Homo sapiens: one gene and its partners. The protein of the gene in region 3 interacts with the protein of the main gene of each other region in a biochemical or structural test. Each region holds a gene or a part of one and is shown on either strand. Other genes may lie near its edges.

Region 1 (4,319 bases), about 24 Mb from region 3:
CAGCTCTCAGCATCTCTGCTGGGAGGCAGGATTCCTGTTCCCATTTTACAGATGAGAAAACTGAGGTTAAAAGAAGGCAGGTGATGTGTCCCGGGGCATGTGGCTGGGCAAGCAGTGCCACTGGGCTCCTCCACTTCCAGGTCCCTGTGATGCTGGGAAACTGAGTCACGGAGGCGGGGAGAGATGTGTTTGAGGAATTGGGCTGAGACCGTGATCTCACCCCCGTCAGGCCTGGTGGGCTCCTTTGACACTCAGCGGCAGGTGGAGGAGGCTAGGGACAGGCTGGCAGGGGCTGAGCTGGGCTGACGGGAGGATGAGTCGCTGCCCTCTGCCAGGGTTCCCCTTCAGTGCTGGGGCTAGTCTAGAGGGCTGCAGTCAAACATCTCCCTCGTTCTGGCCGAGTGTAGTGGCTCACACCTGTAATCCCAAATACTTGGCAGGTGAGGAGGGAAGATCTCTTGAGCCTAGGAGCTTGAGACCAGCCTGGACAGCATTGTGAGACCCCCCTCTCTACAAACAAATCAAAAATTAGTTGGGCACAGTGGCACATGCTTGTAATCCCAGGAGTTCATGGCTGCAGTGAGCCATGATCACACCACTGCACTCCATCCTGGGCCACAGAGAGAGACCCTGTCTCAAGAAACAAAAATCTCCCTCCTTCAGTTCCCCAAGGCTGGGTCACCCTGGGGCCTCCCCAAGAGCCATCACCCAGGCCTCGCCTAGCCCTGTGCCTCCTCCCAGCCCTGGGTGCAGCCAGTGGATGTCTGGATGGAGAATGGGATGTATCTGTTAAATATCTGCCTTTGCCTCAGCCATGAGCCCCTGCAGACCGGCCACCTCCCTTCTCCCCGTCTGAGCAGTGTGGGGGAAGACCAGGGCTCTGGGCACGGCAGGGCCAACTGCCATGTGCTGGACACCTTTCTAGGTGGTTTATGAGATTACTTCATTTCTTTTTTTTTTTTTTTTTTCTGAGATGAGTCTTGCTCTGTCACCCAGCCTCCTGAGTAGTGGGGATTACAGGCAGGTGCCACCACACCTGGCTAATTTTTTTTTTTTTTTTTTTTTTTTTTTTTGAGACGGAGTCTCACTCTGTCGCCCAGGCTGGAGTGCAGTGGTGCGATCTCGGCTTACTGCAAGCCCCGCCTCCCAAGTTCACGCCATTCTCCTGCCTCAGGCTGGGACTACAGGTGCCCGCCACCACACCCGACTAATTTTTTGTAGTTTTAGTAAAGACGGAGTTTCACCATGTTGGCCAGGCTGGTCTTGAACTCCTGGCCGCAAGTGATCCGCCTGCCTCGATCTCCCAAAGTGTTGGGATTACAGGCATGAGCCACCGGGCCTGGCCTGGATGACTTCATCTTCATCCCATCCTTAATGGGGCAGGGGAAGTTGGGTGGGGGGGGGGGGGTCGTCCATCCTATGAGGAAACCGAGGCACAGATGACAAGTGAGGGGCCTGTCCAGCTTGGAGTCCTAGCACCCCACCCCGCCCCAGGGAGCATCTCCCCTGTAGTACCGTCTCCTCCACCCTGTCCCTGGAGCCTCAGAGACATCCTGTGAAAGCTGCCCTTTTATAAGGAGGGAAACTGAGGCCCCAGGAGGGGAAGCAACATGTCAGGCCAGTTGGGAGCCAGGGCTGGCCCCTGCTGCTCCTCTCTGCAAACTGCTGCCCCTCTAAACTGAGGGGCCTCCCTGGTGTGAGGCCTGTGAGGATCATCTGGGGCCTGGTATGGGTGAAGTCAGGGGCAAGGTTGGGGCTGACGTGGATTCTCTCTTCCTCTCTCGGGCACAGGAGCCAAGCCGCCATGGCCTACCACAGCTTCCTGGTGGAGCCCATCAGCTGCCACGCCTGGAACAAGGACCGCACCCGTGAGTGCTTGCTGGGGGCCGGTGGGTGGCTGCTTCCACCTCCTGGGATGGGGACCAGCCAGAGCACACATGGGGACTCTGGAGCAGCCAGGCCCCCGGACCATGGGCTCCATGTGGCTGTCCCCTGGCCTCACCCCTGGGTCTTCCAGCTGACCAGGGGCCTCCTGGGTTAAAGTTTAAGGAGGGAATGGGCCAGTTGCGGTAGCTCATGCCTGTAATCCCGGCACTTTGGGAGGCTGAGGTGGGTGGATCACTTGAGGTCAGGAGTTCCAGACCAGCTTGGGCAACATGGTGAAACCCTGTCTCTACTAAAAATACAAAAATTACCTGGGCGTGGTGGTGGGTGTCTGTAATCCCAGCTACTCGGGGGGCTGAGGCACGAGAATTGCTTGAACCCAGGAGGCGGAGGTTGCAGTGAGTCGAGATTGCACCACTGCACTCCAGCCTGGGCAACAAAGCGAGACTCTGTCTCAAAAAAAAAAAAAGAGAGAAAGAAAGAAAGAAAAAGTGACCAAGAAAAAGCCTTTCGGAGGAGATGACATTTTGACATTTACCCAGAGACCCAGAGGGGGAGAGGAAGGGAACTGTGCCCCAGCTGGGGAGGGGCTGGCAGGTGCAGGGGCCCTGAGGTGTCAGCAGGAGCAGCGAAGGGTTCCTGGTTGGCCAGAGCAATAGGGTGGGGAGAGGTCCCAGGGTTCATTGCTGCGAGTAAAGGACAGCCAGTTCCAGGAGAAGACAGGGTGGCCTAGCAGGGCCTGAAGGACTTCAGGGGGCCCCTGCAAGGCAGAAGAGGAGAGACTGAGTCATGAAAGGTGAGGTGTTGTTGCCTAGGTGCACTGTGTAGTGTGTCCTGGCAGAGGGCAGTCATGGAGAGGGCCCCTCAATCTCCCTCCATCTCCCCTTCAGAGATTGCCATCTGCCCCAACAACCATGAGGTGCATATCTATGAAAAGAGCGGTGCCAAATGGACCAAGGTGCACGAGCTCAAGGAGCACAACGGGCAGGTGACAGGTATGTCAGGGTGGCTGGGACCACCGTCCTGAAAGGAGGTGGTGGGTTGGGGGGGTGGTGCAAGGCAGGGCATGGCCACTCATTGTGGAGCATCTGCCCACTCACCGTGAAACCCGGATTCAAACTGGCTTCAATTTTAAGGGGACTGTGTTGGCTCATGTTACCAAAAACTCACAGGGTTGAGGGCTTCAGGAGAGGCTTGATCCAGCAGCTCCACATGACCAAGAACCCATCTTTTCTGCCTCTTGGCTTTGCCCTCCAGCATGTTTGCTGATAGCATGGAGGGCTCTGACACTCCCTCATAAGCTCTAGGAGTGCCCCCTGGTGTCACTCTAAATAAGCACTGGATCTCAGTAAAAAGTGCTTGCTGGGCCGGGTGCAGTGGCTCATGCCTGTAATCCCAGCACTTCAGGAGGCCAAGGCGAGTGGATCGCTTGAGGTCAGGAGTTCGAGACCATCCTGGCCAACATGACTAAATGTTGAAAAATACAGAAATTAGCCGGGTGTGGTGGCACGCACCTGTAGTCCCAGATACTCTGGAGGCTGAGGCAGAAGAATCGCTTGAACCCAGGAGGCGGAGGTTGAAGTGAGCTGAGATTGCACCACTGCACTCCAGCCTGGATGGCAGAGCGAGACTGTGTCGCAATAAAAACAAAGAAAGAAAGAGGCCGGGTGCGGTGGCTTGCGCCTGTACTCCCAGCACTTTGGGAGGCGGAGGCGGGCGGATCACCTGAGGTCAGGAGTTCAAGACCAGCCTGGTCAACATGGTGAAACCTCATCTCTACTAAAATACAAAAATTAGCCAGGCATGATGGCGGGTGCCTGTAATCCCAGCTACTTGGGAGGCTGATATGTGAGAATTGCTTGAACCCGGAAGATGGTGGTTCCAGTGAGCTGAGATCGTGCCAGTGCACTCCAGCTTGGGCGGCTGAGCGAGACTCTGTCTCAAAAAAAAAAAAAAAAAAAAAAGATTGGTGGTACACACCTGTAGTCCCGGCTACTCAGGAGGCTGAGGCACGAGGATTGCTTGAACCTGGGAGGCAGAGGCTGCAGTGAGCTGAGATCATGCCACTGCACTCCAGCCTGGGTGACAGAGCGAGACTCTGTTTCAAAAAAAAAAAAAAGTGCCTGCTGGGCAGATACAGCTTCCACCTGGATGGTGGCCTTTCAGCCTCTCCCATGTGGCCACCATACAGCCACCTCTGCCTGAGTGTCATCAGCCTCCTGTGTTCCCTCCATCCCCCCACAGGCATCGACTGGGCCCCCGAGAGTAACCGTATTGTGACCTGCGGCACAGACCGCAACGCCTACGTGTGGACGCTGAAGGGCCGCACATGGAAGCCCACGCTGGTCATCCTGCGGATCAACCGGGCTGCCCGCTGCGTGCGCTGGGCCCCCAACGAGAACAAGTTTGCTGTGGGCAGCGGCTCTCGTGTGATC
Region 2 (4,319 bases), on a different chromosome or scaffold from region 3:
TGCCAGCCCACAGTCTAAGCTGGCATAACCCAAACCCACATCAGAGTCCCAAGGAGGGGAACACAGGGCATTCAGACTTTGGAGCGAACACAGCAAAGGCTTTGGAGTCAACAAAGGCTATCCACCTTCCCAACGCAGAGGAGGAAACCAGCATTCCCGTGTGATGCGGTGTGGGCTAGAGATATAAATAGCTTCTAAAAAGGTTAGCAAAATGCACACATGACAAATCTACAGTAGGTTACTAAGGGAAACCAGGATGCTCAGTGCCAGCATCTCACCTGTTGCAGCTGATGCCTGGAAGGAACCCTGGGGCTCCTCCCAGGCTCTGCTCACCGGGCTGAGCAAGGATGGAACACGGGGCTACAAGGACCCAGAGTCTGATGTTGTGAGTGGCATTTCCTAAACCCTACTAATGTTCCCTGCAGGCCTTCTCCAAAGTAGAAAACCTTTTTCCTAATCACATCTCTGTCTGGTTCCCATAAGCCCACTTGTTCCCAATTTCCTCATCTGGGAGAAGTCTACCTTGAAGGGTGTTGTGAGGATGACTTGCCTGGAGGTGGGAGGAGCCTGGTGAGTGGTGATCCCATGGCCCTTTCTCCTTCCCTTTTCTCATCATGCCAGGCCCTTCTGCTAAAATGCAGAAGGTGGGGCATGCCAAGCCTGCCTCCGGTGGAGATTCCCTTCTGTAGGGGAAGTGCCTTGTGGGCACCCAGAGGGCATGCAGGGCAGCCACAGCTGCTGGGTTATATCAAGTGTAAAACAAATCTCACTTGTCATTGAAAAAGCAACACCAAGGGACACCAGAGTAAAAGATATTTATAGCTGTCATGGACGCTTCCCTGAACTTGTGTGTTTAAGTTAACAGACATAGAAACAATACATCCCAAAGCACACAAATTGACTTCCACACACTGAGACAGTGGCTAAATCTGGAACTCTAGGGATCCCAAATTCACCCCCAACACACATCCTCCTGAGTGTGGATATTCTGGGACCTGAATAAACTGGGCTTCAGTCCTTCCCTCTCCAGGGTATCAAGTTCTGCCTTCCTGCCAAGGATTAAGAGATCAGCCTAGAGCCCACAGCTAGAGAGCAGCTTGCCAGGCAGCTCCCCACTGGCCTGTCTGGACAGAGAGGGAGAGCTCTTTCCACTTCCCATCGCTCCAAACAGTGCAGTAGCAGGAGGGAAAATCCCATCTCTCCAGTCCCTCCTTGAGCAGACAATGGGGTTGCTGCAGAGCCTACACTGAAGTCCTGAAGGCTGGGCAAGAAAGGAGAAGCTCCACAGAGGCCCAGGCAGGAAGCCAACCCCTCACCCCCAAAACACACGCAAGGCCCCTAGTGAGAAGGAAGATGCCTCGGTCAACTTCCACTCCAAAATGCTTGGCAGTCAAAATGTGACAGCTGCTCCTGGACCACCCATGGGCTTGGCCAACAGAGGGGAAGTGTTCCCTTTGGCAGTGGTGCTCTGAGTGTGCTGGGATGTCCCCAGGCAGTGCACATGATGGGGACTGAAGTCCAATACACTCTCTCTCCCATTCTCTCTCTTTGTCTGCTAATAGCAGCAGAGGTCAAGTGGAAAGCAGCCTGCTCTAGAAGGCCAAAGGTCATCTACAACAATCACCCTTTGACTGGTAGATGCCCTAATATGTCAGTCGGACAAATGATGCCTATGGCTTTGAACTTGACTGGGGTTAAGGCAGGGACCATGAGTGAGCAAGTGGACTAGAGGTTCCAAACTGAGGGAGGCACTGTTGCTGTTATTCAAATACAATGAGTGCCCACATGCATGAGTGAACATTTTGGAGAGAAGGCAACTGACCTGTAGTGCCATGAGCTGCCTCATTCCATCTTAACTCTCTGAAAGTAGAACCAACTGAAGCCTACATACCCTACTTGTCTGTCAAATTCTGCATGGAACTCTAAGCTATTTCTCTTCTATCAATGGGGATACGGGCTCTGCTTAAGACAGAAAACCATCTGATACAACAGGGCATTTACGGCAGGGAGCACTGGGCTTGGAACCATGGATCCCACAATAGGGACTATGGGAATTACAATGCGCAAAGCTGTTGCACACCTTGGTTGAAAAGGTTCTAGGATCTGGCATTCTAGTGGAATTTCTATCAACTCCAGGCACAATATACTGTTCTCTTCCACTCTGTGAACCTTTCTCCCCACAAAACTCCCCATAGTGGAATATAATAATTTCCTGTACTATTTGTCACTCACCCACTATGCACAAAGTATCAGCTGCTTTTAAATATGTTAAAGAGTTTAAGCCAGCCTATGACCTTGTAATGCAGATTCTAATTATTCACGTTTTTACTAGATCACAAAGGTAAATAATTTAGCTAGAATCACATGACTAGCTAAGGTGGAGATCTGAGCCCAGGCCTGTTTTGTTCCAAAGCCCATGGACCTTTCTCTGCTGCCCACTAGGCTTAAGGATTTGTGTATATATATATATGTATATACATATATATATATATATATATATATATATATATATACACATATATATATATATATATATATGTATATGTGTATACGGATACATATATATATATATAAACCCTTAATGTTTTTTATTTACTTTTTATTTACATGTTTATTTATCATTGTTATTATTGTAAGACAAATCTGATATGGATTCCTAGAAGCCTGAGGTCTTAATGACCAAGTGCAATGTAGAGATCTCCTATGTAACACATGAACAGAGACCCGAGACAGACATTTCTCCCTTTGCTGACATCAGCTGTGGTAGATCCCCATTTTAAATTCATTCCTTTGCACTCCCCAGGTGCAAAAGTACCTGGACATAGTACCAGGTACACAGCAGGCACTTGCCATTTGGTCTCATCATTGCTAAGTTGCTTATTAGTAATAAACCCTCAAATGCTGGGAGATGAAATATTACTAGCTTTGATGCAAAAACAAAAGTCTAGACACTGGGAAAAACACCAATGGGGCCTAACACACATCTAGGCCCCACCAATGGTGTCCAGCATTGGGTGAAAACAGTAGTATTTGAGCCTTACTAATATGTTCATCCTGCTTGGTCTATATCTTATGATCCTCCACTAAAAAGAGTAATTACGGCCATATATGGAAAGCCCTGGTTTTGTAAGTGGGGTCAACTTCAAGTGACTCTGGATCTAAGTTCTCTCCTCTGTAGAGGTGCCATCCAACACCCACTCAGAGAATGGCTGTGAAGATTACAGGTACCACAACTATGGATGCACAAACAATCCAATCAACCCCGTGGCATCTCAGCATTCCCATGGTGTCCTGTGTGTATAACTACTTCAAACTGGAGCAGATTCAGACCCCTGTCCCAATCCTAGCAACACCCCTCAGTAGCTGTGTGACCTCAGGCAAGCAACCTAGCTTCTCTGAGCCTGTTTCCTCACCGCAAAGATGAAATACCACCTATCTCATGGGGTTGTTTTATGGACTAAATAAAATAATATTTGCATGTGTCTGCCTCTGGCCCCATATGTAGGAAAAAACTCAGTAAATACTAGCAGGGTTTAAACATACTCAGAACAGCTCTGACTACACACATCCTGTTGAACAGGGAGTGCGGTCAAAAATTATCATGGTCACAAGTAAAGGAGATAAGAGAAAGGAAGGTAGTGAGAAGTTCAAATTAGAGGCGATTTTTTAAAAGCTTCCTCTTTTCAACCAATAAGGTCAACCTCTTGTTTATCAATAATACGACTTAAAAGTCAGTCTTAGTTGATTGAGCAAGCTCTGCCCCTTGCCCTCCACATCCTCCAATGAAGGTAGAAGGAATAACGACTACAGGGCAGGCAACCAATGGGGGCCCAGGAGAGCTGAGAACTGGCTGTACTGACCTGGGCCATTTTGGTGAAAGGGGGTGGTCTCAGGGACCTTGAACTGCCAGCAGTTCTCTATCTTCAGACGTTCCTCTAACAGTTTAGAAACCAGAGGTCACATCAAGGCACTCCCCCTCAATAAGGCATGTTTCAGAATCCAACCTAAACTCTAATCACAGTTCTGAAATCCAAATCTAGACAAGCTTCAAAGTACATCACTCCCTTTATTGAGCACCTAGTGTGTGCCAGGTTCAATGCTAAACATTTGCCATACAATATCTGCACCAGGGGATCATCTTATTTTTTTAAACCCCATTTTGCAGATAAGGAAATTCTACTACTGGACTTCCCCCAAAGACATTCTCTAAGACTTTCAGCTGCTCCTGTGTTCTCAAGGATGTAAGTCTGTATGACATGTGGAAACTTCTGCCAGAGTCTTCAACTCTAATCATAGTGCTGGATTCTACAAAATTCATC
Region 3 (5,385 bases):
ATTGTATTTGTTTTGACTTAGGTAAATTAACAATTTTAAAGTCAGTTAATTATAGGTGTGTAAATTAAAAGTTAAGGAGCAGCTTGAATGTATCTCTTTGGGGAGTGTCTGGGCAGCCTGAGCCTCCCTGGCTGCTAATTGAAGAGGAAGAAAGGGGTCCTGATGAAAAAGTTAGGAGTTCCTGAATTTTAGTCCATGCTCTGCTACCATACATTGTGAATATGAACAGGAATTTTTTTTTTTTTTTTTTTTGAGACAGAGTCTTGCTTTGTCGCCAAGGCGGGAGTGCAGTGGCACGATCTCGGCTCACTGCAACCTCGGCCTCCCAGGTTCAAGTTATTCTCCTCCCTCAGCCTCCCAAGTAGCTGGAACTACAGGCGTGTGCCACTACCCCTGGCTAATTTTTGTATTTTTAGTACAGACAGGGTTTCACCATGCTGGCCAGGCTGGTCTCGAACTCCTGACCTCAGGTGATCTGTCCGCTTCAACCTCCCAAAGTGCTGGGATTACAGGTGTGAGCCACTGTGCCTGGCCATTTCTCCCTTCCTGAACTTCACTTTTCTAATTTGAAAATGAAGGGTCAGACAAGATAACTCCACAGTCTTTCCAGCTTTAATGCTTAATCAGTTTAACTATTCTAGATTCCAGGGACTCTAGCAGGGAAAGAACAGGCCTAATGTTAACTCTAGCATATATGTGTTTTGCACAGCCGAGACTAATATAGCATATATCTAAGCAGAAGGTAGATAATCCTGAATTATTTCATTGAAAATTCCCATTTTTAATTCACCTTTTTCTAAGCATTGTAATTTAATAGGCATTTCACTTTTAAAACAGCAGAGTGAACAGAATAAAAAAGCATTAGTAGTAGAATTACCAACTCTTAGCTAACTTAGAATTATTATTTGTAATTATAATGTATTTTTGGGTTATTAGAAACTGCTTTTTTGGTTAAGATGGAATTATTTTTAAGAATTTCTCTTTTGTTAACCAATTCCATCTAGAATCCTAATTCTGGATGAAATTGTATTAGTGATATGATAGGTGTTACATGTTACTGCTTATTTTCCAATATTAAAAAAATCGGTTTTTAGTTTCAGTGGTAGACTTAATAGTTATAGTGAATTGACTTGGTTACTTTAGAGACTGATTCAAGATTGAGGTTACTGTGGGGATTCATTTGTGTGATTAAAATAATCTTGGTTTTCTTAAATTTTTTTGTAATGCACTGGACAACATGCTGAAATTATGGCTTATTATATTAGTGAATTTTGTATTCCTGAAACAGCATACCAAGAGACACTAGAACCTTTGACAGAACTTTTCTGAAACCCAAATGAATGCCAAAATTAGGCATGCTTTTAAGATGCAAAGGGCTGGGTTTTATCTTTTACTGTCTTTCTTGCTTATTCAACTTCTGTTCTTGCTGTGCTCTGGATATTAGAAAGCACAGCTCTTGAGGAAAAGATGTGACTGGGCCTTTTGAACAGTGTCTCTTTCACCAAGTTCTGCCAGTCACTCTTTGGCCATCTCTCTGTTGTGGACAGTTGTAGGGATTTTATTTAAAATATACTATTTTTTTAAAAAGTTATCTTTTAATGTAAAAATTGTATCTATGAGTAATATCAGATTATAAAGTCTGGAAATAAAGTCTTGATTAGAGAGCAGGTTTGATTAGGACATTCAGGATTCCTCATAACATATAGAATTGGAGCTACTTAAGCGTTGGCCAAAGTACAGAGGAGCCGGGTTCTATTTGTTTTGCTGCTGAGCAATTCCTACCATGTGTATCAGTATTCTAGTCTTCTATAGTAAGATTTTTAAAAAGTCTTTATAAAAACTGGTAAGAGCAAAACTTTCCTAAGGAAATGCATGCTTGTAGTAATCTCATGTATTTCACTTTTGTCCATATTCTATAGATTTTTTAAATAAATAATATTAATGGAAGTATAATGGTAGCCCATTCTAGTTTTGAGTAGAAAAACAGATTTTAAAAGAGCAGATAAGGGTTGAACTTTGTTATAATTTATTCTGTCTAGAAGTCATAGCTTTCCTAATAGAGTTCACTCTTACTCTAAAGGTTCTAGAAACAAAAGTTTATACATTCATAGTCACAGTAATAGGATATACATTGTTAACTATAAATATAATTCTTATAGGTCACCTAGCATCGTTGATGGATTCTTGGAAACTGTGACTTTAGGTGAAACAACACATAATGAAACCAGTTTTACCATAGGGTAATTGATATAAACAAGAGCTAAGTTTCTGTAGCATATATCACCAAACTTCTAAATAAAGACAAAAACACTTCTAATATTAATTAATGAAATAAATGTGAGCTGTAACACATTTAAGAAAGAGTAATAAAAACAAGATAATTATTTACCCAGTTACTTCACTTCAGTCTCAGGTGGCTGGAGCCTATCCTGGCAGCTCAGGGTACAAGGCAAGAACCAACCCTGGACAGGACATCATCCCATCGCAGGGTGCACTCATACCTACACCCACAACTCACTCGCACACTTGCTCATCCTGGGATAATGTAGACAGACCAGTGAACCTAACATGCACATTTTTGGGATGTGGGAGGAAATCCAAGTACCCAGAGAACCCAATAGACATGGGGAGTACCTGCAAACTCCACACAGACAGTGACCCCAGCTTGAAAATGATTTTCTTTTCTCATCAAAGTTAATAATGGGCTGGACGTGGTGGTTCACACCTTTAATCGCAGCGCTTTGGGAGGCTGAGGCAGGAAGATCACTTGAGGCCAGTAGTTTGCCACCAGCGTGGGCAACATAGACCTAATCTCTACAAGAAAAAGTAGCTGGTAGTGGTGGCCCATGTCTGTAGTCCCAGTTACTCCAGAGGCTGAGGCAGGAGGTTCACTTGAGCCCAGGAATTCAAGGATGCAGTAAGCCATGATGAGGGCATTGCACTCCAGCCTGGGCAACATAGGAAGACCTGGTCTCTTAAAAACAAAAAAAAAAGTTATGATGAAAGGACATTGAACAAAATGATGTTGAACAAAAGGATGTTATTTGAGGACCTGCTGTATTAAGTATTTAGTAATTAGGAGACATTTGGCATGCTTAACCATATTCATAAATATAGTGTAATACAAAATAAATCTTATTTATTGCATCTATGTTAGTAGTCTCAGAAGTATTCGAGAGTTATACTGATATAATAGCATATAGGAGAGTAAAACTAATTAGAAAACATTATTTTCTCATAGGAGTTAATGCACTGTAGAGGAATTGTAACCCTTTTTTTAAAGAGACCAAATAATTGACTGTAATGTTGAAGAGGTAAATACAGAAAAGCCCCTCAAGAAAATGTGATCAAATGAAAGATATATATATAAAAGATAATATATGAGATATATCTGACATATGTATGAGATATATATGTCTTATCAATCAACTCCTTTACTAATACATAAACTGATGCATAAACTAGCTAGAAACTGAAATGATTTTTATTAGTGAAACGTAGTCAAGTCTTGAGGACTTACTAAGCACATAACACCCTCCCAGTATCTTGGAATATGAGGGAGCAGTAAGGAAAATCCAGGTTTTACCCCTCAGTTATTCACTGTATAGCTGAAGAAGACAAAAATTATGCACAAAAAGATATATGCTGCAAACCAGCATATATATATATATATACACACACACACACACACACACACACACACACACACACATATATAAATGTATAAAAGATTTGAATAATAGAGAGGAGAGATAGGTATATCATTGTGGGACTTGAATATGAAAAACCTTAAATAGCCTAGAGAATTGATGTCAGAAACAAGCAGCTTATCAGGTACAGATGCTCTTCTACTTATGATGGATTATGTCCTGATAAACCTGTCGTAAGTTGAAAATGTTGTAGTCAAAAATGCATTTAACACACCTAACCCACCAAACATTATAGCTTAGCCTAGCCTTCCTTAAATGTGCTCAGAACATTTACAATAACCTACAGTTGGGCAACCTGATGTAACACAAAGCCCATTTTATAATAAAGTGTTGAATATTTTACATAATTTGTTGAATACTGTACTGAAAGTACAAAACTAAATGGTTGCATGGGTACTCAAAGTATGGTTTCTACTGAATGCATATTGCTTTCGCACCATTGTAAAGCTGAAAAATTGTAAGTGGAACCATCATTAGTTGGGGAGTGTTTATATCAGGAAATGTGTAAACAAAAGTTTGGGATAGAAAATGTGTATAGAATTTTAGGAGGCATTGAGGAGACTGGTTGGCTAGAATTGAGAATGACATTTGCTTGGGCAGATAGTGGATGGTAAGTTTGAAGAGTAAATTGAGGCTAGATTTTGGAAGACCTTTGAACTTCAAGTCTTAAGGATTGAACTTTATTCCCTAGAAAGTAAGGAAACACTAAGATTTCTTCAAGAAATTTCAAGATAGGAAGGATCTGGAGAAAGAAAATTGGAAATTATTATTCATAATAGAAATAAGGATTGAGTAATACTTTATTGTTTACTAAATTTCTTATTTATTAGTTCAGCACATCAGATCTGACTAAGAAACCTGGAATTGTGGCAGCTTCTAGAGCAAGCTTGTCCAACCTGCGGCCCAGGATGGCTTTGAAGGTGGCCCAATCCAAATTCATAAACTTTCTTAAAACAGTTTGAGATTTTGGGTTTTTTTTTTGCAGTTTTTTGTTTTTGTTTTGCTCATCACCTATCATTGGTGTTACCGTATTTTGTGTGTGACTCAAGACAATTCTTCTTCTTCCAATGTGGCCCAGGGAAACCAAAAGATTGGACACCCCTGATGTATAGCAAAAAAAAGGACTAAGTCCTTGATGTATGTGTCCATGGCAGACACCAACAATCACAGCATTTTTTCCTACTGAGTTCAGACATGGTTTCTAACTACCTGTTGTATTCCTAGAGGCAACCACTACCAATTGTCCAGGTTCACGATAGATGAAATCTAGTTGTCATTCCAAGGCTAGATACCAGAAACGTGAAGAAAAAATTGGCAATATTTAATTGGCTTGTGAATTCTGGATGACAACAAAACCTCATACTATAAATGGCTAGATAGTAGGAACTAGAACTTTGGACTCTAGTGTTGATTATTGCGGCTGTGGGAGTGGGATTAGATCTGTGAAGGTGTCAAGCTCAAGATTACAGAGGGAACAGTCTAGCTAATGTTTTACTTGGCCAGCAGCATTGGAAGAGGATGGCTTTGGCCAAGTGCTAAAGTGCTATTCTCTTTAATTTGCTAGAAACATGGTATACATATTGTTCTGCAACTTAACTTTTTCACTTTTATTAATATATATAAATATATATTTCCATGTTTATATCTGTTGCATCCTTTTTATTAATATATTACT

What was found. Proteins that work in one complex are often made in the same cells at the same time.
Region 1: the proteins of WASL (region 3) and ARPC1B form a complex in vitro, tested with the Homo sapiens proteins (one study listed by IntAct).
Region 2: the proteins of WASL (region 3) and RHOQ form a complex in vitro, tested with the Homo sapiens proteins (one study listed by BioGRID).

Annotation. Positions count from the first base shown.
Region 1 is NC_000007.14:99,383,911-99,388,229, forward strand, and holds part of ARPC1B (actin-related protein 2/3 complex subunit 1B), read left to right. Parts: intron 1-1,791; 5' UTR 1,792-1,804; coding exon 1,805-1,868; intron 1,869-2,774; coding exon 2,775-2,879; intron 2,880-4,128; coding exon 4,129-4,319. UniProt on the Homo sapiens protein: Component of the Arp2/3 complex, a multiprotein complex that mediates actin polymerization upon stimulation by nucleation-promoting factor (NPF).
Region 2 is NC_000002.12:46,544,671-46,548,989, reverse strand, and holds part of RHOQ (rho-related GTP-binding protein RhoQ), read right to left. Parts: intron 1-4,319. UniProt on the Homo sapiens protein: Plasma membrane-associated small GTPase which cycles between an active GTP-bound and an inactive GDP-bound state. In active state binds to a variety of effector proteins to regulate cellular responses. Involved in epithelial cell polarization processes.
Region 3 is NC_000007.14:123,738,204-123,743,588, reverse strand, and holds part of WASL (actin nucleation-promoting factor WASL), read left to right. Parts: intron 1-5,385. UniProt on the Homo sapiens protein: Regulates actin polymerization by stimulating the actin-nucleating activity of the Arp2/3 complex. Involved in various processes, such as mitosis and cytokinesis, via its role in the regulation of actin polymerization.